Linked DNA regions of Homo sapiens. The protein of the gene in region 2 interacts with the protein of the main gene of each other region in a pairwise test. Each region holds a gene or a part of one and is shown on either strand. Other genes may lie near its edges. The genes, in order: RANBP3L, KIF24 and CEP97.

Region 1 (9,104 bases), on a different chromosome or scaffold from region 2:
ATAAATGGATTAAAAATATCACAGGAGAAGCTAGAAGATAGCAACAAGTTGGGAGATGAGCCTCCTGGACTTGTGTTCTGGACTGATAGAGCATTTGTTGTCATAGTAAACTCCACGTGGACAGAAAACCATGGCTTAGTTGTCTTAGTTCAATTTGCATACTCAGCATCTAGCACAACACTTTGCACCTTGTTGTTGCCCAGATAACTGCTGAAGAATAAGTGATTTTTATCTATGTAATCACTTCAAAATTACACTTCTGTGAGTGACTAGGTGGAAGGACACGAAGCATTTTAGCATATGGCATGGGGGGTTAGAAAATATATATGTGTTGAGGTCAGTGCGGTGGCTTATGCTTGTAATCCCAGCACTTTGGGAGGCCGAGGTGGGAAGATCATGAGGTCAGGAGTTCGAGACCAGCCTCACCAATATGGTGAAACCCCCGTCTCTACTAAAAATAAAAAAATTAGCCAGGCATGGTGGAGTGTGCCTGTAGTCCGAGCTACTCAGGAGACGGAGGCAGAAGAATCACTTGAACCCGGGAGGCAGAGGTTGCAGTGAGCCGAGATCATGCCACTGCACTCCAGCCTGGGTGACAGAGTGAGACTCCATCTTAAAAAAAAAAAAAAAAAGGAAAAGAAAATATGTATGTGTTGAAGCTAGTCACGCCTACAGAAGTGTCGAATGTCAATTAATCATAGTCTGTATGCTAAATAATAGAGGCAGAACTTTAGGCTGGCTGGGGAAAGGCCAAAGCCGTGAACCCAGGATGATTCCATGAATAAAGCCAGACCTCACTCTCTAAAACAAATGGCTTTGCTTCCTGGGACCTTTGCTGAACTTCACATAATAGCAAGGTGCAAAAATAGCTTGGAGGAAAAAGCAGGGCCACTGCTCTGAATGAATACTTTAAAACTCCAGGACAGTAACTGGAATGCAATTTAGCAACACAGCAAATACTACCCAGCTCAAATCACTAGATGATATTTCTTGCAGCAATCAATGGCCAGTCTGGACTGCATTAGCATGCTTCACAACTTTATGGATTGTGGCTTATGTGGGCAGATATTTTGAGACTTGGGTGTGGAAGAATATGCTTGCTTTCAAAACATTCTAGGCAAAAAGCTAAGTCTGAGAAAGAAGACCAGTCTTGTGGGTATTTTGGGAAGTATGTCATCATAGTGATTATTTCCAGGCTTCTCTGGATATTGCCAGTGTGATGGTTCATGCTGAGTGTCAACTTGATTGGATTGAAGGATACAAAGTATTGATCCTGGGTGTGTCTGTGAGGGCGTTGCCAAAAGAGATTAGCATTTAAGTCACTGGGCTGGGGAAGGCAGATCCACCCTTAATCTAGTGGGCACAATCTAATCAGCTGCCAGCAAATACAAAGCAGGCAAAAAAACGTGAAAAGGTGACTGGCCTAGCCTCCCAGCCTACATCTTTCTCTCTTGCTATTTGTCCTTGAACATTGGATTCCAAGTTCTTCAGTTTTGGGAGTCAGACTGGCTCTCCTTGCTCCTCAGTTTGCAGACAGCCTATTGTGGGACCTTGTGACTGTGTAAGTTAATACTTAATAAACTCATCTTTATATACATATACACACATATATACACATACGTATATCTGTATATATATACACATACATATATGTGTGTGTGTGTGTGTGTGTGTGTGTGTGTATATATCCTATTAGTTCTGTCCCTCTAGAGAACTTTGATTAATACAGCCAGTAAAGGAGAGATCTTCAGGATAGCCTGGCTTAAAACAATAGTGGGGTATTATTTTTCACCTATAAAATTGAGAAGGAGTTTAAAAAATAATAGTATTACTGAGAACATACCCCAACACTGCTGATAGGAGGGTCACTTGGCCAAAAACAATTTTTAAGAATGTATAATCCTTTGACTCCACAATTTCACTTCTAAGAATTTATGCGAAGAAAATAATCCCATATCAGTGCAAAGATCTATTCATTAGTTTAGGTGCAGTCCAGTGTTAATTATAATAGTTAAAATATTAGAAATAAATAATATATCTAACAGTAGAGAATTGCCTAAGGGAATTTTGCTACATCCATATAAAGGAACAGTGTGCAACTGTTAAAAATAAGGTTGTAGAAGAATATTTAATGACCTGGAAATTTGTTCATCCTCTGTCATTAAATTAAAAAGCAGTTTACAAAACACTGTTTACAAAAGTATCCAGAACAAGTCTATATTGTTTAAAAAGCAAGCAAAGGAATAATCCATACAAGTGCATAGAAGAAAAGTCTAGAAGTTTATACATTAAAATGTTAATAGCAATTATCTTTGGGTGGTGGGGTTACAGGTGACTTCTTTAGGCTCACCCCCACCAAATTTTCTATTAAAATTATCATATTAGCAATTGAAGTGGGGGGAAGTCACTTTAACATTTCATACAAAGTCAACAGAAAACAAAAACCTCTGATAAACTAGAATTGTTTACTAACAGAGAAGCAAGAGCATTTTACAGTGCTATGCCTTAACCCTGACACATTCCAGGACTTTACATTCTAGGGTACTTGGTTCAAAATTTATTTGAGCACTAGTAGTAAAGCATGGTCTAAAAGTTCACATTGTTTTCATTTACCATGAAGTATTTTCTGCCGACACTATGCTAAGCCTTGTAGAGCATGAAGTCATGTTATACAGCTCCAGGAACCGATGCAGAGAGGTGGCCTGACACATTCATGTGACTGTTAGCACACAGATTCCATCTTGGAAATGGGAGGTTTTGGCCCTTTAGCCAACACTCTCCACACCACTGAAATCTAAAACTGCGTCTACAGAAAAATAATTAAAGAGCTCATTGCCTAGACCTACACATAAAAAGATCTATCCTAGGTTATTGAGGAGAAGTTAGAAGTGTCTGGTGAATCCTTAACCTCTGTGGAGTGATGATGTCATCCATGAGAGACCCAGCCTTTCCCACAAGTGTCATTTGCTGTCCCTGACAGGGTGGATTGGAGGGATCATCTTGTCTATTCATGTCAACCATCTGACACTAACTCAGCTGGCTGGAGAGTGGATTTGAAAATTTAAAAAGACTGATGGTGAAAATGGCTGGGAGGTAGATAGTTTAGTTTGAATGAGTGCCCAGCAAGTGAAATGTGACACTTTTCCCTGACTGTCTCCAGATGTCCCTGGACCATAAAAAGGAAAGAGTCAAGAATATATTTATTTTTCCCACAATGAATGAGCCAGAGATCCAGACAAACTTAGGCTTAAACAAAGTGAAAAAAGTGTCCCACCAGTGGTACTATGGTAGAGAAAGCTCCAGGCTAACTTAAAGCTACTCTCAGCTGAAATCCCCCTTGTAGCTGACTCAGCCTTGCTCAGATGGGTGTTTTGAATTAGACAAAATCTAGCATACTCTAAAAAACACAGTGGCTAGAAGTTTAAGCATGTAAGTTTCAGAATGACAGCTCCAAGGAATATGCATTCTTGACAGTCTTCCATAGTCCTCTAAAAATCAATAGTGAATCCAAGTTAACCCACCCTTATGCATCACTATTATGTCAGAGCTTCCCCGGGTCCTTCACCAGCCCACCATTCTTCCTGGAATGCAAATGCACAGAAGGTCACAGAATATGCAACTCATGAGCTGGACGGACTCACCTTGCTGTCGCCGGTCCTCCTGCAGCTTCAGTTTACAGGTGTGCAAACTGCCAGGCAGGTGGCTGCTGCCTTTTCTTGGTATGGTAGTCATGGTCCTAGCAGTATGGCTGTGACTCAAGGATCACTAGGGCACCTCCTTCTCTGGCCAGTCACCTAAAGTGGCCTTCACCAGACACCCAGAAATACATAGATTCATGCAGATCTTGTCTTTGCATGTACAACATATACTCCTCTACTAAACTTCCAAGCTTTTTCCAGTCATGATTCTTGAAATAAATAATCACCAATGTTACTTCTCCTAAATATAAAGATGCCAATTCATTTGGTTAAAAACACAACTTAATTCCTTCATTTCAAAACAAATTGAAACTAAACCTCCTTATAGAGTAAAATTCTACAAATTAACTATTTCTAACAGATTACACTTTTGTCATTTTTAAATTCCTTTTGGCGACATGAAATCCAATGCCTCCAGTATTTAGAGAAGGCTGCTAAAATAATACAGACACAAAGAAAAGAAAAAGTGCTGCTGAGTTAAGTCAAGTGATTTCTAAGCCTGATCTGAGTTACCCTCTGTGACAGCTGAAAGTGTACAGTTCTTAAGGGACTCTGGAAGGAGGAGGAGCAAAGTGGGCTAGGATGATTAGCATAAAGAGGCAGGCAAGACGGGCATTGGAGCTGCTTTGAATAATAGTGAACAAAGCACAGATTCTAAAGATGCCCTGCCCTTATGTTACAGTAACTGAGTACCTGATTTCTGCTACTTTGTTTGTAATTAAAATGCAAGCTGAAAGCAGGAGTTTATACTGCAAGGACATTCATTTGTGCATGTGAAATCTAAAAGGTATAAATGGAACTGGTAATGAGCTCATGGAAATGTACTGCTGGAACTTTCAATTTCTGTAAACACCTCCTAGTCTTCGGAAGGGAGCAGTTAGAGGGCAGCCTTCCTGCCAAGGCAACTATTTGGAGTTCTGGAAGAAAAATAAACACACAAAACATTATCTTTCCAGAGTCCTATTTCTGTTTCCCACTTAGAGTTCTTATTGCTACTTCTAGGTCATAGGAGAAAGTAATTTCCAGTTTTACTCGTTGGCTATTTCCTTACTGTTTGGAAACATAAACCCCAAACACCATTAATTTAACTTGAGAGCTTGCCATAACTGAAGTCATAATGAATGCTGGTAGGTCCTGCCCTTCAAGAGTCACAGCTCTTCGCAGATTCAGAAAGAAGGTAGTGGGCAGGACTAAGGAGAAAGGCAGAGCTGTTTAGCCTCGAAGTCTGGACTCTGCAGCTTCTTATGTGCATTTGGAAATTGGTGTTAAACTTGACACTGTAATGAATTTACCTCCTAACCAGATCTGGGTGGCTGCCCTCATTTTACTTTGAGGCAATTAACAATTCCCCAAGTATAGTCTGGTTTATGAAAATTTTTATGAAGTAGGTGATTGATCTTTTATAATTCTTGAATGCTTTAATTGTTTCAGTAGTCTATCTACTGCAGTTTTAGGCTAATCACAGTGTAACAGATGACAGAAGTGTTGTGCTACTTTGAAAGAGAGTCTTGTTATTGGAGAGTCATAGTTTCTACTTTAAATGTCTGCTATTCATCTCATCTTCCACAAAAGCCATGGTGGAGAGACAAGGTGATTTTTCCTGAATATGTAAAGTTATTGTTATTCTATCAAGTTATGTACCTCACTAATAAGCATATTATTATACAGGTAAGTTAAATAACCTACAAAACTGTAAGCCAGCCCTTTTGAGAAATACATTTAAAATGTTTTATGATGAAAAAATTTAAAAATACATGAATAGGAGAGAATAGCACAATAAGCCCTGCATACTCATCACTTGGCTTCAATATTATCAACTCATAGACAATCGTGTCTTAAAACTATGTGTTTCATTATAGCTGTTCTCCCCCTTATTACACCACTGGAGTTGAAGCATCCAGACATCATTGCATTAATAAATATTTCAGTGTATATTTCTAAAATGTGAGGATTTAAAAATAGATAACCATAATAAGATAGTCACGCACATAACAATTAAATATGATTATTTGATGTAATTAAGCATCCACACAGTGTTCTTATTTTCCTGATTGTCTCATAAACTTTTTTATCTTTACATTTTTTGCAAATTGGGACCCAAAGGTCCACACATTGTATTTGGTTGATATGTTTCTCAAGTCTTTTTTAATCTATAGGTTCATCTCAGAGAGAAATGTTGCTTGGAGATGAACATCTACACTTACCCTAATTTATGTCTGATTTTTTCAAGGAAGCCCCCTAGATGCCTCCATTTTTCTTACTCAGGAAAAAAAGAGAAAAAAAAAGGGTGGTCATCTGGCCATGGAGGCTAAGACATCCAGCTTTCTTGCCATGGTGTTCTCATTCATATACAGTGCAACCTTGACCCAGCCACTTAACATTTCTGGGTTTGTGTCTTCATTTAGCATATGAAACAAATGTTTGCTAAGCAATGGGATAAATTATTCAACACTCATTCTATGGATATAAAGGCCTGGGAAAGGGAGGAGTATCCTACTTTGTCTCTGACTAGAGCCTAAGGAGAAAGAAATAGATTTAAAACTAAAATCTGGGTAGGATTTAGGGGTATATTTGAAAATCTAGTCCCTCAGTTTTCAAACTTAGCTAAGAATCATAATTACCTAGGCCATATTGTAAAGATGTAGATTCCCGAGCCCCAACTGCACAGTCTGATGCCTAAGGTGCAATCTGGAATCTATATATTTTTATAAGTCCTCTAGTCTAAATAAACAAGCATTATCTGCTTAAACGGAGCTGGTTTGTTCCACTATTTCATTCATTACATCTTTCTTGAGGGCCGAAGAAACCAAACCCTCCTTAAACAGTAATTTCAAGTGCCACAACGTAAGGGGACAGGGAGGATACAAAGGAATGCTACTGGTTCCTCTTTCGTGCATCAACGAGGCAGTCCCAGGCAGTGGCCTTGTGAGGGATTAGCTGAGTCAAGGGAATCCTGGGTTCCTACACTGCCTGTTAAGTTCCATTGCTGTTCTCGAAGGAGTCTCTGGTTTGATTTACCAGTTTCCACTGGAAATCATCCAGCATGGCAGAAAGCAGCACGTTACAGGAGTACATAAGATAACCTCAGATATATCAGCTACAGTGGGATGGGGGACTACTTTGCTTCCCCCTTTCCCCACTTACTTTCCAGAAACATCACCAAATTAGTTCACAGTGGGCATATTGTTCCTTTTTTTTGCATAAATGAAAACAAGAAATCAGATTGCAGAAGTCTGGCTGGGTCAAGAAAGAGGTGAATCATCTTTGGCATTTTTACTTACAATTGATTAAAAATGAATTTGAATCCTATAAAGGCCAAACTTCTTCCCTTATCAAGTCTCTGTGATCCCCACAAAAGGATACCACTGGTTTCCTTTTCCTGGGGTTTTCCTTATCTGCCATATCTTCTCTGCTTAACCTGTGTCTTTGTACTTCCGGAAGAGTAGAGTGAAATGGCGCATCACAGATAATCAATCATACCAGCTGGCACTTTGGGGGTCGATACTTCAAAAAATTGATATTTTATTGCTAGAATTTATACCTCAAAAAGCACAGTGTGTGGCTGAACAAGCTAAATGGTATTAGGTTTACAGGAGGGTTTACTTTTCTCAGTTACCATATTCAAAAAGCAAGGACACATGCATTTAAAATTAGTCCACAAGTGAGTTACTTGTTTAGTTAATAACCTGCCATGTTTCAAAAGCATTTGTGATGTCTAGTCTGCAAGTATATCTATTATTTGAAGGCCTTTGGACTGCTTGGAATGATAGGTGCTATATAAATAAAAAGCAATATTATTGAATTTATCACTCTCATTCTTAGAGAATAAGTTTAAAGACCCCTATCAGCAGGCAAACATGAAAACTGTGGCTGGGATTAGCCTCATTATGATCCCCAAAGTACTACAGGAATTATTAAATGATCATTATAGTTGAAGGCTGATGAATTAGTGTCAAGATTTTAGATTTTCTGTTGATTTTAAAAAACAGATCCCCTGCTCCTTTATATCAAGCAGTGGTTGATTTGTTTCCAGATTACTCTTCCTTAATACACAATCAGATATATTATAGATGAGAATGTTGAGTTTCAGGATCTCACAGTGGCTTATGTATGGTGTATATTGTAAAGCCTCCACAAAGGTAGGCTTTCGTGGCTATTCAGAGCCATGTTATTACCCCAATGTACTATAGTGTTTAGCTCATAGAGTTTCCCAGGTGGCACTGTTGGCTGGATTCCCATAACTGCCATCTGTAAAAACATAGGAAACACAAATAATGGTAGAGATAGTTTCACTTGAATACTTGCTCCTGTCCGTGGATTCAAGAGACTACACTGGCATAGCACCAAACTGCTTACTTATCAAAGCTGCTCTCTATCCTGAAATTGCTACAATTGATCTTTAACCCATTGAACACCAACATTTGGGTCATGTTTATCATAAATATTGCCTCACTACATAAACATTGCGTTGGCAGTTCAGACTAATTTGGGCCCTTTTGCTGCTGAGCCTTAGATTTGGCTGCCTCAGGGCTCCCTCTGGAGGTCGGCAGAGTCCAAGGTCAGTTAATATTAAAATAGCCTTGGCCTTGGCACAAGATAAACCCATGTCTTTTCATCCAGTGCCCACAAGAATGGGGTCCTGTATTTGTGAGCTTAGAAGATGATTGTCTGTATCTGAGGTTGGAGGAAAGTTACCTGATTATCCTCCTGTAAGTGAAATGTGATTACTGCTATGTGCTGGTATTTAACTTTCTGAAGTTTTACATTTTTCTATCTTTATTGAAGTGTTTTAGCTACAGTGAAAACAAAACGAAATAAAACCATAGGTCAGAAAAATGCCAGATTTTATTTTATTTGTTTGTTTTAGTGACAAGGAAACCTAGAGTAAGGTGGTTCTGGTTCTATAATGACCACCCTCTGGGTAGGAACAGATGATCCCACAGAGTCTGAATTCCATCTAGAAGTGTTTGAAGCACCTGGGAATTGGAATCAATGGGTTTACAGCACAACTTAACTCTTTGAAGGTAAATATGCACTAACTGGGATCAGTTTCAAAATAAAGCAAATTAGCTTGCACCAAATCAAAATTTTACTACTTCATTTGAATTGGCATTTACAGGAATAAAATAATAGCAAACCATGTTTCTCACTCCCTTCCTCATAATTTCTTCTTTCCTTTTTAGTTGGTTTATTGGTTATTTGCTTCTTTCTTTTCTTCCTTCCTTCTTTCCTTTTTTCTTTGCATTTCTTCTTTCACTGATTTTCTTTTATATTAATTAGGCGGACTATAATGTAATTTTGATGTATTAAAAATAAAATTATTCTATATCTGAGATTTGCTTCAAAATAGCCTAGGAGAGTGAGATTTGGGGAGATAGAGATGAAATAAATTTGGCCATAAACAGA
Region 2 (6,075 bases):
GTGAGCCTAGGCCCTGAGCTGGGGAGGTGGGGAAGATTCGGGCATGTGAGTGCCCCCAGAACTGTCCTGGCTCCTTCCGTATTAAACGCATTTGCATTTTGAGAAGTGTCCTTCCCACTTCAGCCCTCCGGAGAGACTACCCTAGTCTTTCTGGGGTGTTTATGTCCTCAGCTGAAGCCTGGCCTAGTTGCTGAGAGGGGCTGGGGAGATGGGGCGGGAGGGCCAGACTCAGTGCTGCTGTGGAGCTAGGTGCTTCCCCCTTCCCCTGAGACTGGTGGACTGAACTCCAGTCAAGTTGAGTTCAAGTGAAAGATTCTTCCAGGGTTTTATTTTTTCCCCTCCTAACAAAGTCTCATAGTGTTAACACTGGTTCTGCAATATCTCTGAGGTGCAAAGAATGCACTTTTCCCTATGGGGCCCAGAGTTTGCCTTTTCTGCCAGGCAGTCACCATGCTTCCCTACCCCAGCCTGTTTCTTTTGGCTTGGTTTGGACCACAGTCCTCTGCTACCCAGGGTTTTAGAGCCCCTGCTCTAGGAAACAGTTTAAGAAATCATTGGCCCCTTCCCAGCACATTGAATGGGTAAGCAGACAGGCCATGATTTAGTTGGCCAGCACTAACTCCACCTCTGTTCTCCTTGAACAGCTTCCCCTCCAGCCCACTGCTTTAGGATGACACAATGAATAACACCTAGTCATAGAAATCAGTCTCTCTGGTTTGTTTTGTATTATGTTGTACATCATTAAAGATCTAAATACAAAGGATATACAGTCTTGAATCTAAAATAATTTGCTAACTAACTATTTTGATTCTTCAGAGAGAACTACTAATAAAAATCTAAAAGGTATGTCTTGGTGTGATAACTTCTTTATTACCAAGGCTGTTTTATGGGAGTGGGGGGGCCATGTGGTGTATAAAGAGATTTCTTGCTTAGATTTGCTGGGGATAGAATAGGACCTAACCGTTTTCTATTTCGGAGCTTTCTTCCCACTTCAGACCTGTCCTCGTTTTTGGTTTGCAAAGGCAAGCCTAGACTGAGTCTTTTAAACCTGGCCCAGCTCCGTCTGTGGACCAAGGACGTAGGCCTTCCTGACTGTGGAGTTGGGATAGGCTGGGCCTTCAGGGGGATCACCCAGTAAAAGAGGAAGAAGCCCTTTTACTGTGAGCAGCAGGCATTTATGCATCATTTGCCACAAGCAGAGGATGGGATTTAAACTGTTTCACCAGCTCTCAGTGGTGCTGTTGTATATGATGATAGAATAGGGTTCATTCCTAAAGTAAGTAAGTTTTTGTCCTTGACCTTAATACTGTGCCATTGTCCCACTTGAGCTTTTGGCTAGACTGGGTCTTTGAAGGTTTTTAGTGATCATGTGAGGGAGGGGCCGCAGTGCCCTGCAGCCGGGAAGCACCAATAAGGATGCCCCCTGGCGGTCAGATGAGGCACTGTCAGGCTGACAAAGGGTGACTGGACCAGGCTGCTAGTGTCTCAAGAGAGCCATTTAACCCTCTTCTTGGCCTTTTAATTAAGCCCTCCTTTTAAAACCGTAAAAAGTTATCCTTTATCTGAAGGAAATAAAGGCTCACATAGTAATGGGCGTTCGGGCCAAGGCCGTGACTCATGAATCTCCATTTGACCCAGAGTGGCTTTAAAGTAATTGGCACCTGGAGGCTACTTTGTCTTCCCTGTCCTGAGCTGCTTCCTGCTAAAAAGATACACAGCAGGCAGAACTTGGCTGAAGGTTTGTGTGTGAATTCTGTTTCAGAGGCCTCAGACTGTTGAACAGAGCACTCTGTTCAACTGCCAAGGTTCCCAACACAGACCCCTGAGAGGCAGGGTGGCTGGGCAGGGTGAACTGGATGAAGGCCAGGCTAGGAGATGGACTATTCCATGAGGGGGCTGGGTAGTGAGGTGTCCCAGATAGGAGCCAGGAGCTGCCATGGAAGCATGAGAGTATCGGGCATTGTACAGAGGCCTTTCACCCGAGCAAAAGTCAGGAGAAAAATTGATGTGTGACACAGGCACCCTCTTCTGCCTCAACACTGGATTGCAGGAAGGGAAGGGAGCTGTAAATATAAGGCCTGTCTCACATCTGCTGCTGTCAGTGACACATCAAGTCAAGGTTTATGCTATTTACATTTTCAAAAACGCCTCTAAATCCCCAAATCAATCTCCAAGGGCTGATGGGGCAGAGCTCACCCCACCCCTGTCCCCCTAGCACCAATGGTTAAGTTTGGGCCAGTGTTTAGTCTTCTAAGTTAGGCACAGAATTCAGCTGGTGAAGCCTCTGGTCTCAGCATGTTGTCTTCTCTGTCTTGTGACCTCTGACCTCTAGGCTACCACTGACCACCCCATCCTCTGATCCCCAAACTTAGAAACTTCAGGGTTATTAGACCCAAATATATTCCCACAGGCAAGGGGTTAGTTAATCATATTCTCTAGGCACAAGGGAAAGGCATTAGGTTCTTCGGCCTGGCCCACCCTTGGAGGCACTCCTGTGCATGGAACTGAGGGACAGGGGCCTGTCCCTGAGGGAGAAGCTGGGACCTATCTGAAGCCACGTGGGGCTGGGGTGACGCTAGCATAGGCAGGACCAGCGTGTGGGTTCTGGTGTGTGCAGGGAGGACCTGGCAGAGGCTCCTCCAGCCTGAGAGCCCAGCACAGACTCCTGCAGGGCCCCCACCATCTCGGCACAGGGTCTGGCTCTAAGACGGCACTGTTCCCTCAGGGGCTGCGGTGGGCCCGTGGCAGGTGAGATAGAGCTGCAGCTGGCTCCTCAGACTCTGGATACACTTGGATTTCAGAACCATGATTTCATCCAGCTGGGTCACAAAATCTTCAAAATCCTGAGAAGGAAACAAGGGACGAATACAGCTTTTGCTCTTGCTGGCGCTCTGCCAGATCTGCTTTTTCAGTCCCTCCTCTGGCAGGAAAGTTTCAGAACCCAGGCCACTCTTCCAGCGGGAGAACATGTAGGATAGTTGCTATGGCACAGGGTGGGGCCTGCTGCTCTGCATTCGAGACACTTTCCAAGCAGAGGAGTATTTTGTAAGGCAGAAGGGTATTTGGTAGAAATACCTACGTGTGGTAGGCAGCAGACTGGTCACTGTTAGTCACAGGGAGGGGCCCCGACAAACCGCTAGGAAGGCAGAGCAGCTGAGGATAGAGGCTGGAAACATTTTAGCCTGGAAAAGGCGAGTGTTGCACCATCTCCCACCTGTACCTATACTCAAGATGTCTCAAAGGCGTGGCAAGAGGAGGTGTGAGGCCTCAGTTATGGTTAGTGTGTGCCAGGAGACCCTTTCCCCACACACAGCCACAGCAAACAAGGATGACCATCAAATTAGCTGCAGGCTAATTCCCAACAGCCTGTGAGTGTCCAGCCAGGGCTACTTACATTAGAAGCCAGCTGGCTCATCAGCGTCTCCTCCTTGAAGCCGAGCTCAGCCATTTCATCCAGCTGTTCCTGGTGTGCTCGGATGACCACCTGCCTGGGAACACCAGAGAGAACACTGTGATCTTCCTGGCCTCCCAGCCTCTCCTGGGTAGCTTTCTGGAGGTGATCTCATTTGTAAGCTGAGAGCTGCCTCTGCCGAAAATGGTCAAGGTTTTCACCAAGGCCAGCTTACCAACCAGCTCCCCCTCACCTGCTCTTTCTCAGGATTAGGTAAGGAATTACGGAGTACCAACGAGATACAGGGAGGGAGACAGGGGCTTCCCAAGTTGTCTCCTGCCTCCCCAGCTGTACTGAGGGGGCAGGGCTGGGTGCTGCTGCTCTTCCACAGGAGCTGCCCATTTCCCACAGCTTCCCTGCAGAAAGGCTCTCAAGGCTGTGACTGCAACTGGCATACTTGGCACAAGATGGAGCCTATTGCCTGGTCTGCTATCATTTCTACTTCCTGTGGAGGGCCCGGGACCAAAGCAGAGGGTTGGAGCTAGAAGCAGACTAGCTCACCTGCGTACCCCTGCATGGCTTCTCTTTGTCCATGACAAAACAGTAAGCTGGAGTGGAGGGTGGGTGCCAAAGGGGCTCAAGTCTTAGGGAAAGTGTCCAACTTACTGCGCTTGCTCCAGGGTGGGCTGACGGAGTGTCCCTGCAGTCTTGGGAGAGCAGCTGGGAACCAAGGGAGAACTTGGCCTTGCTAAGCACCTTGAGATCGGCCTGGGTTTGAGCCATGTGACATTTTCACTGTTGCAGGGCAACTTGATGGGGTCTGTGGACAAACCAAACTCCTGCCAACCAAGCCTTGTAGGATGTTTTCTCTCCTGGGCCCAGAGCTGGTCAGCCACATCACTACTTCCTGTTCGTGGGGTGAGTGTAGGTCCAGAATGGGGTACCCCCATATGTATGGTGGTGAAGGGCTTTCCTGGGAAACCCCAGGAGCCATCCAGCCCCGTCTCCTCTGCATCAGCATCATACTGCTCACTACCCATGTGTTCGTGGGAGAAAAGTACAGTCTCTCTGCTCTGGCAGGCCTCTCCTAGGTCTGCCTCCCTGCTGGGCAGCTTGTCAGCTGGGTGCTGACGGATGGGTGATGGGGACAGAGCTGGAAGATCACCACCAGGCTTATTATCAGGGGGAGATGAGGACAGCCACAGGTGCCTAGTTGCTGAAGACACTGGCAAGGCTGCCTCTTGATCACCAGATGGCACTGTGTGGCTCACAACTGGGCCCCCTGTGCTCTCTGCCACTAGACTGTGCGTAGCCCCATCCTGGACCAGCTGCTCCGAGGGAGGAGACCCTTCGTTGTCTGGGTTCTCCAGGAGGGACATGGTGAGGGGAGACATGAGTCCAGAAGCATATTCAGCATGCGTGCCTAACTGCCCCCTAGGATCCTCTCCTGGGACAGCATGACCGTTTTTCACAGTGCTGGTCACCTGGATTGGGCCGTCTGCACTGACTTCTCTCAGAGGTGTGGTGACTGTGTCTCTTTGGTCTGGGGATCCAGGAACTGCAACGTGGGACAATGAGATAGTGAAACCATCTTCCTCTGGGGATGGCAAGTTGCCCTCATTCTCCCCAGAAACCTCACTTTGGGAGGCATCCTTTCTGAGATCAAAGGAAGAGCCTCCACCTCTTTCCTGTCTATATATGAAATCTACCTGTGAACAGTATGGCTTCTCTGCCAGGCTGTCTCTGGGAGAAGGCCCTGAGGAAGTAGAGTTCTCTCTGCTCCAGTCCACGGGCCCCTTACTTGGGCTGCAGCTGTGATCGAGTGCTGCTCTTCTGTGGTTTATGGGGTCCCTGGAGTCCACCCAGCTTTTAGTTAGATCTTTCTTGTCACCTGTCCTGGGGCTAGAAAACAGACTCTGCTGTCTTTCTGCCACCTGCTTCTCAGGACCCTGTCCCCACGTCTGGTGCAGGAAGAATGAGTCTTCGCTATTCTCCAGGGTGTTCCTTTGCTTTGTGGCCCTCTGACTAGAGATGTGTGAAAAAGAATCTTCACTGAAATCACTGTCATCAAGTTCCTCTACTTGGGCTCCATCATGGTTTTCAGAGTAAGAGTGGAACAGAGGCGGAGTCTCATTCGTGAGCTGACCCTCTGGGGGCCTGTACTGGCGTAAAGACCTTTTCAGTGGTTGGTATTTTAACTTCTGTTGGAGGAGAGGTGGCTGTTGGAACTGCTGGTGATAGAAACGCAGATGTTCCTCCCTCTCCTTCTGATGTGGCGGGATGTTTGTCCAAGCTTCAGAGGCAGGCCTAGCAGGCGTGCCCCTCTGGCTGTCTTGACTGTACTCAGCCCTGTGGTGGGCGTTGCCAAAGGAGAGCTCAACTCGAGACACAAGCTGCTTCTGTACTGGCTGCACTGTCTGCACTTTCTTGCACTTGGTGGACAGCTTACCACGCACTAGGCCTTCTCCTGGGCCTGAGGCCCTGCTTTCCCACCCAAGGACAGTTTTGTTGCCCATTCGATTTTTCTCAGAGCACAATGGTGCTGACTCTTCTGGCTTTTTTTTGGCCACATGTCCAGAGCGCACAGTTCCTTTCACAGGGCTAGCATGAATGACCCACTCTTGTGAAGGACTCCCTCTGGAGCCACCCCTTTTACCAGAGACCTTAGGTGCAGAAGTAAAAGG
Region 3 (8,686 bases), on a different chromosome or scaffold from region 2:
TCTCTCAATCTATCTGTCTTTGTTCTATTTTCTTTGCTTTCTTTTCTCTCTCTCTCCCTTGCTTTTCTTTCTTTCTTTTGGTTGTAGTTGAAGAAGTCAGAGTATTTGTCCTATAGAGTTTCCCATTATCTGCTCATTTTACCAACTACATCCCTGTGTCCTTTGACATATTCCTCTCCCTTTTGTATTTTCTGTAAATTGGATATGGATGTTTGTTCAGATTCAGGTTTGATTTTTTTTTTTTTTTTGAGGGGTGGACTATAAGGTTGGTGGACTATAAGGTTGACAGGTATGATTATAGCGCACTATAGCCTCACACACCTGACCTCAAGTGATCCTCCCACCCCAACTCCTGAGTAGCTGAGATTACACATGCCACCATGCCCGGCTAGTTTTTTTTTTTCTTTTAACTGTCATTATGAACTAATGGATTCAAATGCAGTTCATCTATTTAGGCATTTCAGTGTGACAGAATGAATGGGGAGAATACTCATTGCTTCCTTGAAAATGATTTAAAAATATTTGGCACCATTAGTCCAAGCTCAATGGAAGTGCCCCTAAGCAAGAAAAAGGGTTTGAAACATTATTAGAATGGTGAATATGAGTCAGAATGATAGATTTTTTAAAAAAATTGAGTGAATTTTATTTATGAAAAACATACAATGGTGCTATAAAGGTAAGTTAACAAGGAAGATCATTGTTGCCTGACAATGTGTGTTGACTATTCTCATGCCATCTCCTCTTTTTTATGTTCCCCAATTCCAGTTTGAAAGCTGAATGGCTCTATAGTCAAGGCAAGGGGAGAGCATATCGGCCTGGCCAGCACATCCAGCTTGTCCAATATCTGGCTACAGTCTGCCCCCTCACTTCTACACTAGGTCTTCAAACTGCAGAGGATGCCAAACTAGAGAAGATTTTGAGCAAACAGAGGTAAGCCCATTTATTTCTAACAACTGATGAATTCACAAGTTAAAATACCTCTGAGTCTTTGCTATGGTGATAGTAAGCCTGAGGCAAGTGCTGCGGCCCACATTTCTGGACACTCAGTCCCCTTGTCACTGCAACAGTTCCTGCAGGGAAGCTGAATCGTGCACTGCAAACAGCCAAACAATATGGTATGGAGGAATAGAGGGGTTTTTTTGTTTTAAAGACAGGGTCTTGGTCTCTTGGTCTGTGAGTACAGCAGTGCAGTCATAGGTCACTGCAGTTGCAACTACAGGTGCATGCCACCATGGTTGGCTAATTTTTTGTAGAGATGAGGTCTCACTTTGTTCCTCAGTCTGATTTTAAACTCTTGGCTTCAAGCAGTTCTCCTGCTTCGGCCTCCTAAAGTGCTAGGATAATAGGTATGAGCTACTACACCAGGAAACGGGATAGGATTTTTAAAAAATATATTTGTTCTTTTTTTTTTTTTAAGACATAATATCACTCTGTTGCCCAGGCTGGAGTGCTGTGGTGTGATCTCAGCTCATTGCAACCTCCATCTCCCAGTTCAAATGATTCTCGGGTCTAAGCCTCCTGAGTAGCTGGGATTACAGGCATGCGCCACCACACCTAGCTAATATTTTATTTTTAGTAGAGATGGGTTTTTGCCATGTTAGCCAGGCTGGTCTTGAACTCCTAACCTCAGGTGATCTGCCCGCCTTGGCCTCCCAAAGTGCTGGGATTACAGTCATGAGCTACTGCGTCTGCCACCCCTCCCCCTTTTTTCTTTTTTGAGGCAGGAGCTCACTTTGTCACCCAGGTTGGAGTGCAGTGGTGTGATCTCAGCTCCTTGCATCTTCAGTCTCCTGGGCTCAAATGATCCTCCCTCTTCAGACCCCCTTCAGTCCGTGCCTGTAGCTGGGACTACAGGCACGCACCACCAAGCCTCGGCTAATTTTTTATATTTTTTGTAGAGATGGGGTTTCATCATGTTGCTCAGGCTGATCTTGAACTCCTGAGCTCCAGCGATCCACCTGCCTTGGCCTCCCAAAGTGCTGGGATTACAGGTGCGCGACACCGTGCCCGACCTATTTGTTCTTTAATGTAGGTGTTTCTTGTGGGTTTTTGAATACTTAAGAGGTATATCTGCCTTCAAAGGGTACAGTGAAAAAAAAGAGAAAAAGTATTGCCAGAAGCATTTAATATTTACTTTCTTTATCAGAGATCCTGCCTTTAAATGTTTTTGTATGTGTGTATGTGTGCATAGTAGGGTCTGTCTTTGCAATTACAAAATAAGCTTCTTAACTTTCTTTATCCAGTGCTTTCAAATGAGGATTTATAATTTGGCATTAATTAAAAGTACCTACTTTGAGAACTTGTAAACTTCTGCCTTTTTGACATTGTTACCTAGGAAGCAGAAAATCTTTCTTTTTTTGGTTTGTGTTAAATTAGACCAGGTATTATTGATTTTTAGGTTTCACCAGAGGCAGTTGATGAACCAAAGCCAAAATGAAGAGTTGTCTCCTCTTGTTCCTGTTGAAACAAGGGCATCCCTTATTCCTGAGCATTCAAGCCCTGTTCAAGATTGCCAGATATCCCAGGAAAGTGGTAAGAAATGAATTTATCTCTGATCCCTTTTCTCCAAGTTGTTTAATTTGTCGGGTATCATAAAGCAGAAAAAGGTGCATATTTTCATAATTTTTTGTTAGTTTACTAACTTCAGTAATCATTTAGATCTTATACATATCTATGTATAAACACACCTATATATGTATGTATATTATAACTGCTATATTTCTAATTTTAAGAAACATTTCAAGGACTACTACCTTTTATATAGACCTGATGCTTTGATTATTCTTATGATTATCACAAGAATTCATTTTCTTAAAAATGTTTGGTTTGATGTTTTCGGCATATTGGAAGAAGTCACTGAGGGGATTTTTTTGCATTTTACTCTATTTCAAGGAATAGATTTCATTAAAGGGACATAACTAAAATGTAAACATTTAGTGGTTTAAATGATACTCTGTTGATTCTTCTAGAACCCGTCATTCAAGTGAATTCTTGGGTTGGGATAAACAGTAATGATGATCAGTTATTTGCGGTTAAGAATAATTTTCCAGCCTCTGTACACACTACGAGATATTCTCGAAATGATCTGCACCTGGAAGACATACAGACGGATGAGGACAAGTTAAACTGTAGTCTTCTCTCTTCAGAGTCTACTTTTATGCCAGTTGCATCAGGACTGTCTCCACTATCACCTACAGTTGAGCTGAGGCTGCAGGGCATTAACTTGGGCCTAGAAGATGATGGTGTTGCAGATGAATCTGTGAAAGGGCTGGAAAGCCAGGTGTTGGATAAGGAAGAGGAACAGCCTTTATGGGCTGCAAATGAGAATTCTGTTCAAATGATGAGAAGTGAAATCAATACAGAGGTAAATGAGAAAGCTGGACTATTACCTTGTCCTGAGCCAACAATAATCAGTGCTATCTTGAAGGATGATAACCACAGTCTTACATTTTTTCCTGAGTCAACTGAGCAGAAACAATCAGACATAAAGAAACCAGAAAATACACAACCAGAAAATAAAGAAACCATATCTCAAGCAACTTCAGAGAAACTTCCCATGATTTTAACCCAGAGATCTGTTGCTTTGGGACAAGACAAAGTTGCCCTTCAGAAATTAAATGATGCAGCCACCAAGCTTCAGGCCTGTTGGCGGGGATTTTATGCCAGGAACTACAACCCTCAAGCCAAAGATGTGCGTTACGAAATCCGGCTACGCAGAATGCAAGAGCACATTGTCTGCTTAACTGATGAAATAAGGAGGTGGGTCAGAAGTCCTTTTGATGCACTGTTTTGTTGGTTTGAGGGTGTTAGATTCTTATAGTTGATTCAGAACACTGTGCTTCTGTGATTATAACACTTTTCACACAATGTAGCCACTGTTGCTTTGGTTGTCTCCTACAGTGTACCGAAAGCATCTGGAGAGCAGACACTATCTGCTCTATCTCCTCATCTCCATCCCCAGCAAAGCACTTGATACATAGATGCAGTGTAGTAATAAATGTTCAATGAACGTGAGCTTTATAGGGATCTATAATTCTAAACATAGAAAGGTACAGAAAACATTGAAAAACCAAGTATAAAAATGAGAAGATGATGAAGTCTACATGGAATTCAGTACATGACATAAGAAATAAAGAAAATAGCAGGGATTCAGAAGGGGCTAAAATTCTATATGACTACAATAGGAATTATTCCTTAATCCCATGGCTCGTATGTTTTACTGACTGCTAGCCCAGGAAAGTTAGGATTTCATTAATATTGCAACTAGTAATATTTACTGGTATTATCAGGTAGAAGAGAAAGAGGCAGCAAAGGATACTGAGAAGGGACAGCCAGAGTGGTAGGAAAACTAGGAGAGTTCCACCTTCAACAGGAGCAAGTGTTTCAGGAGAGATGAGAGGTGCCACAGAGAGGACACAGGCATTAAACTTGGCAGTTGGAGGCTATTGGTGACTGTGTTGGTGATTCTCCAGACTATCCTCAGGTTGGATGATTTGCTAAAAGGACTCACAGAACTTGGGAAAATACTATTCTGTTCGTCATTATGGTTCATTACAGCAAAAGGATACAGATTAGAATCAGTAAAGAAAAAAGGTGCCTAGGGCAGAGTCTAGGAGACATGAGGTGCAAGCTTCCAGTTGTTCTCTTTCAGTGGAGTTGTACAGACAGGGCTTAATTTTCTCAGCAATGATGTATGATAACACATATGAAGTATTGCCAACTGACGAAAGTTACCTCATCTTTGGTGTCCAGGGTTTTTATTGTGGGCCAGTCACATAGGTATTGAGTACCCATGTAACTGATCTTAACTATTTACACCTCAGACCACATAGAGGTCACACTGATACTCCATGGCCCAGGACCCAGGACCCCAGGCGAACAAAACAGATGTTGACTAGAAATCATTGATTGCCTAAACTATCTGATGTGACCAAGACCCCAGGTGTATAAAGATATTCTTTTTCAGTCAGGATATTCCAAGGGCTTGGAGATTATCTCCCAGGAGTCAGTCAAGGGCCAGTCTTATCTTTGCAATGTACAGTGTTTGAACATCCCCATCCTGCTGAGTTAACTCTTTACTGCACAGTGACCTTCCCAAGAGCAGCTTCAGTGGTGTAGAGGGATGAAGGCCATTTTGGAATGGGTTGAATAGTGAATGAGAGGTAAAGAGTTTGAAGGATGAGTGTAGCCAATTCTTGGAAAGAGTTGTTTTGAGGAAAACAAGAGAAAAGAGAGTTAAGTGGTGTCTGGAGGAGAATCTAGATTAAAGGAACATTCTCTTTTGTAGATGAGAGATATAGAGTTTGTTCATGTGTTGATGGAATGAATAAATAAGGAGGGAAAAACTGATGGTGCAGCAAAAAAAAAAAAAAAAAAAAAAAAGAGGAAGAGCAGGATTGCAGTTCTTGAGAAGGTAAGAGAGGAAGAAATGTAGTGTCGAAGTAGAGGAAGTGGCCTGAAATGGGAGCAGGAGCAGGTAAGGTGGTAGGTTTGATGGTGGGAGATGGGAAAAAGTCCTGTCTGATGCTGCTTCTTTTTCAATAATGTATAAGATGTGGTCAACACCTGAAAATGAGGAGAGGGTGAAGGAGGTGTAAGGAGAGAAGTATGAGGTGTGAGGTAGTTATCTTAAACATGACCTTATGAGGAAAATGGAGGAGGGTTGCTGGACAATGTGAGAAAATGCTTAAAAGTGCAAAACAATAGGTCAGGTTGTATGATTTTCATCAGCAATTCTTAGCTGCTCTGGTCTGATTCAGGCATGGTTAATTTGGTTCAGCCAGGAATGATTTTTTTTCCTAGGTGATATTGTAGAGAGAGCAGGGGAAGGGCAAGAGAGCTGAAGATATTTGAGAGGGAGTAATAATGATAGATCTTAGATTTTATATGTTTTTTGAGATGGGGTCTTGCCCTCTTGCTGAGGCTGGAGTGTAGTGGCGTGATCATAGCTCACTGTAATCTTGAACTCCTGGGTTCAAGTGATTCTCCCACTTGAGGCTCCCAAGTAGCTGGGACTATAGGCATGCACCACCATGCCCAGCTAATTAAAAAAAATTTTTTTAAAGAGATGAAGTCTATGTTGCCCATCTGGTCTTGAACTCCTGGCCTCAAGCAGTCCTCCTGCCTCAGCCTCCTAAAGTTCTGGGATTACAGGTGTGAATTACCTTGCTGACTGGAATTTTATTTTTATTTTTTATCTAAAAAAATTTTTTTTTGAGATGGAGTCTTGCTCTTGTCACCCAGGCTGGAGTGCAATGGTGCGATCTCAGCTCATTGCAACCTCTGCCTCCCAGGTTCAGGTGATCCTCCTGCCTCAGCCTCCCGAGTAGCTGGGATTACAGGCACCTGCCACATGCCCAGCTAATTTTTTTTTTGCATTTTTAGTAAAGACAGGGTTTCACCATGTAGGCCAGGCTGGTCTCAAACTCCTGACCTCAGGTGATCCTCCTGCCTGGGCCTCCCAAAGTGCTGGGATTACAGGTGTGAGCCACTGTGCCCAGGCTGGCTGGAATTTTAAATGAGGTAAAAGGGAAGTGAAGGCAGGGGGGAAGGATCATTGGACTGAAGGTCTAGATTGTTGCAGTGGGGTACAACAGCAAGTGAACTGGGAGGATAGGAAGTAGTGGTTGGTGTTGGGTGCTTAGAACCATTTCTGAAAGTAGTGTAGTCAAAATGATTTGGTCTAGGGTGAGACTATGAGAATGGGTGACTGACATGGGGTGGATTATTGTTAGAGCATCCATGTGAATGTTGAGGTCTCCAAAAACGATGACAGGTATGGGGCAAAGAGAAAGCCTGGTGCTGAGACTTCATTGAATGGGAGCAGATGGTGGGAGGTCAGTACTTGACAACGAATTTTGGGAAATTTAGCAGGATGGCAGGAGTTAAAGGAGGGAGATGAAGAATCATTTGAAAACAATAGTGAGAAGCAATTTTTGAACCCTGATGTGTGACAGGGAAAAATAGCTTCCACTTCAGAGGGCTATAGTGCTCTCAGAAGTGGGTCTGCTTTGGACAAGGAAAAGTTCAGAGAGAGATGGAGTATATAAGGGAGTTTGCTAATTATAATTCAGGAGTTCTAGATGGCACAGGAGAAAGGCTTGGGGGGCTAGAGAAAGTGGAGAATTGGGTCAGAGGTGTGGAACAAAATGGTCTTGACAGTTTGGGTGATAATGGATCACTAAAGGAGGAGCCTTAGGTTTGTGATAGGCCTAAGTATGGAGAGAACAGCAGTGAGCCCAGACCTCAGACTTTGATGAATGAATGAGGAATAATGGATGGGAGGTCTCTTGTTAGCAAGGAGTAGGTCGGAGACCTGGGGAAACAGAATAGTGAAGTTTGATGGGATTAGTCTTTAGCAGAGGGTGTTTCAAGCTGGATCACGAGTACTTAAATGTGACCCTTAATTGTTTTGGAGGCTTTGGATAGCCACTCCTTTTTTGCACTTTCTGTTCCTTTGGTTTGTTTGGCTGAGAAATTGAAGCCAGACAAAGAGCCATTTAACATTTTATTTTATTTCTTATTACTGGAAATACTTTGTAGAACTAATACCTGTATTTCAGTCATATCTCCTTTGGCTTCTACTTTGAGTCACAGTTCAAAATTAAGGTTTATGATGTCACTTATAAAACTGTTCCATTTTGATTCTGAGGTTAAAAAAATAAAAATAAAATAAGGTTTTAATTTAGATATTCTAAAAGTGGGAAAGACAACTATTAGATTATTAATCTCTTTACAATGCATGTGTTTATGAGTTGTAACAGGAAGTCTGAGTCAAAGCACCCTTCCTTATGTCAATAATGTGTTTTGAATTATTGTAGATTACGAAAAGAAAGAGATGAAGAACGTATTAAAAAATTTGTACAAGAAGAAGCTTTCAGATTCCTTTGGAACCAGGTAAACTCCCTCCTGCTGATTTACCTCATATATGATCAAATACAGATTCTATATTCATTGAGATAATCATAGAGTACTCAGGTGTATTAAGCACTCTTGTTCAAGGTTAAGGGTATGGCTTGTGTTCTTCGCCACTAACTGTGAACTAGGACAGTGAATTTTCTTGCATTTTATTTAATCTGAAGAAAAATATTCTGACAATTTTGACAAGAAAAACAAAATAGTATAAAGCAGGAGGAAAGTGGCTTAACTGAAGGCTGTTAGAGCTTTCCAATAGATACAACAACCCCAATTTGAAATTTCATGTAGCTATCGATCTGTCTTTTGGGAATATTTGAATGAATTGTGATTAAGATGGTATATGACTACAATATGCATGTCCTAAAAAGTATTCATAACTGTATAGGAGAGTATTTGAATCCTATAATAGCACACTTTAGGGACAGTTTAGGCAGTTGGTTTTACTAGCATTGTATCACATCAAATACTTCTTGATGATAATTTCTTGAAAATATTTTAATAAAATTTTCATTTCTTCTTTTTTATAGAAATGGGGTCTTGCCATATTGCCCAGGCCGGTCTCAAACTTCTGGGCTCAAGCAGTCTTCCCTCCTCAGCCTCCCAAAGTGAGCCACATCACCTGGCCAAATTTGTTATAATAGGATTTGACCTATAAAATGAAAAAATAATTATTGATTTGTAAAGTTTTGTAGTTACCAACAATAGAGGAATGGTTAAATTATAGAATAATAATACTGTGGAATACCATGGAATAGTTAAAAAAAATAAG

Evidence for each region.
Region 1: the proteins of KIF24 (region 2) and RANBP3L interact in binary tests that used the Homo sapiens proteins (3 or more experiments, as listed by UniProt).
Region 3: the proteins of KIF24 (region 2) and CEP97 interact in binary tests that used the Homo sapiens proteins (3 or more experiments, as listed by UniProt).

Annotation. Positions count from the first base shown.
Region 1 is NC_000005.10:36,297,685-36,306,788, forward strand, and holds the start of RANBP3L (ran-binding protein 3-like), read right to left. Parts: upstream 4,219-9,104; 5' UTR 3,733-4,218; coding exon 3,642-3,732; intron 1-3,641. UniProt on the Homo sapiens protein: Nuclear export factor for BMP-specific SMAD1/5/8 that plays a critical role in terminating BMP signaling and regulating mesenchymal stem cell differentiation by blocking osteoblast differentiation to promote myogenic differention.
Region 2 is NC_000009.12:34,251,678-34,257,752, forward strand, and holds the end of KIF24 (kinesin-like protein KIF24), read right to left. Parts: coding exon 4,058-6,075; intron 3,489-4,057; coding exon 3,395-3,488; intron 2,844-3,394; coding exon 2,703-2,843; 3' UTR 703-2,702; downstream 1-702. UniProt on the Homo sapiens protein: Microtubule-dependent motor protein that acts as a negative regulator of ciliogenesis by mediating recruitment of CCP110 to mother centriole in cycling cells, leading to restrict nucleation of cilia at centrioles.
Region 3 is NC_000003.12:101,754,665-101,763,350, forward strand, and holds part of CEP97 (centrosomal protein of 97 kDa), read left to right. Parts: intron 1-765; coding exon 766-930; intron 931-2,398; coding exon 2,399-2,532; intron 2,533-2,969; coding exon 2,970-3,759; intron 3,760-7,820; coding exon 7,821-7,896; intron 7,897-8,686. UniProt on the Homo sapiens protein: Acts as a key negative regulator of ciliogenesis in collaboration with CCP110 by capping the mother centriole thereby preventing cilia formation. Required for recruitment of CCP110 to the centrosome.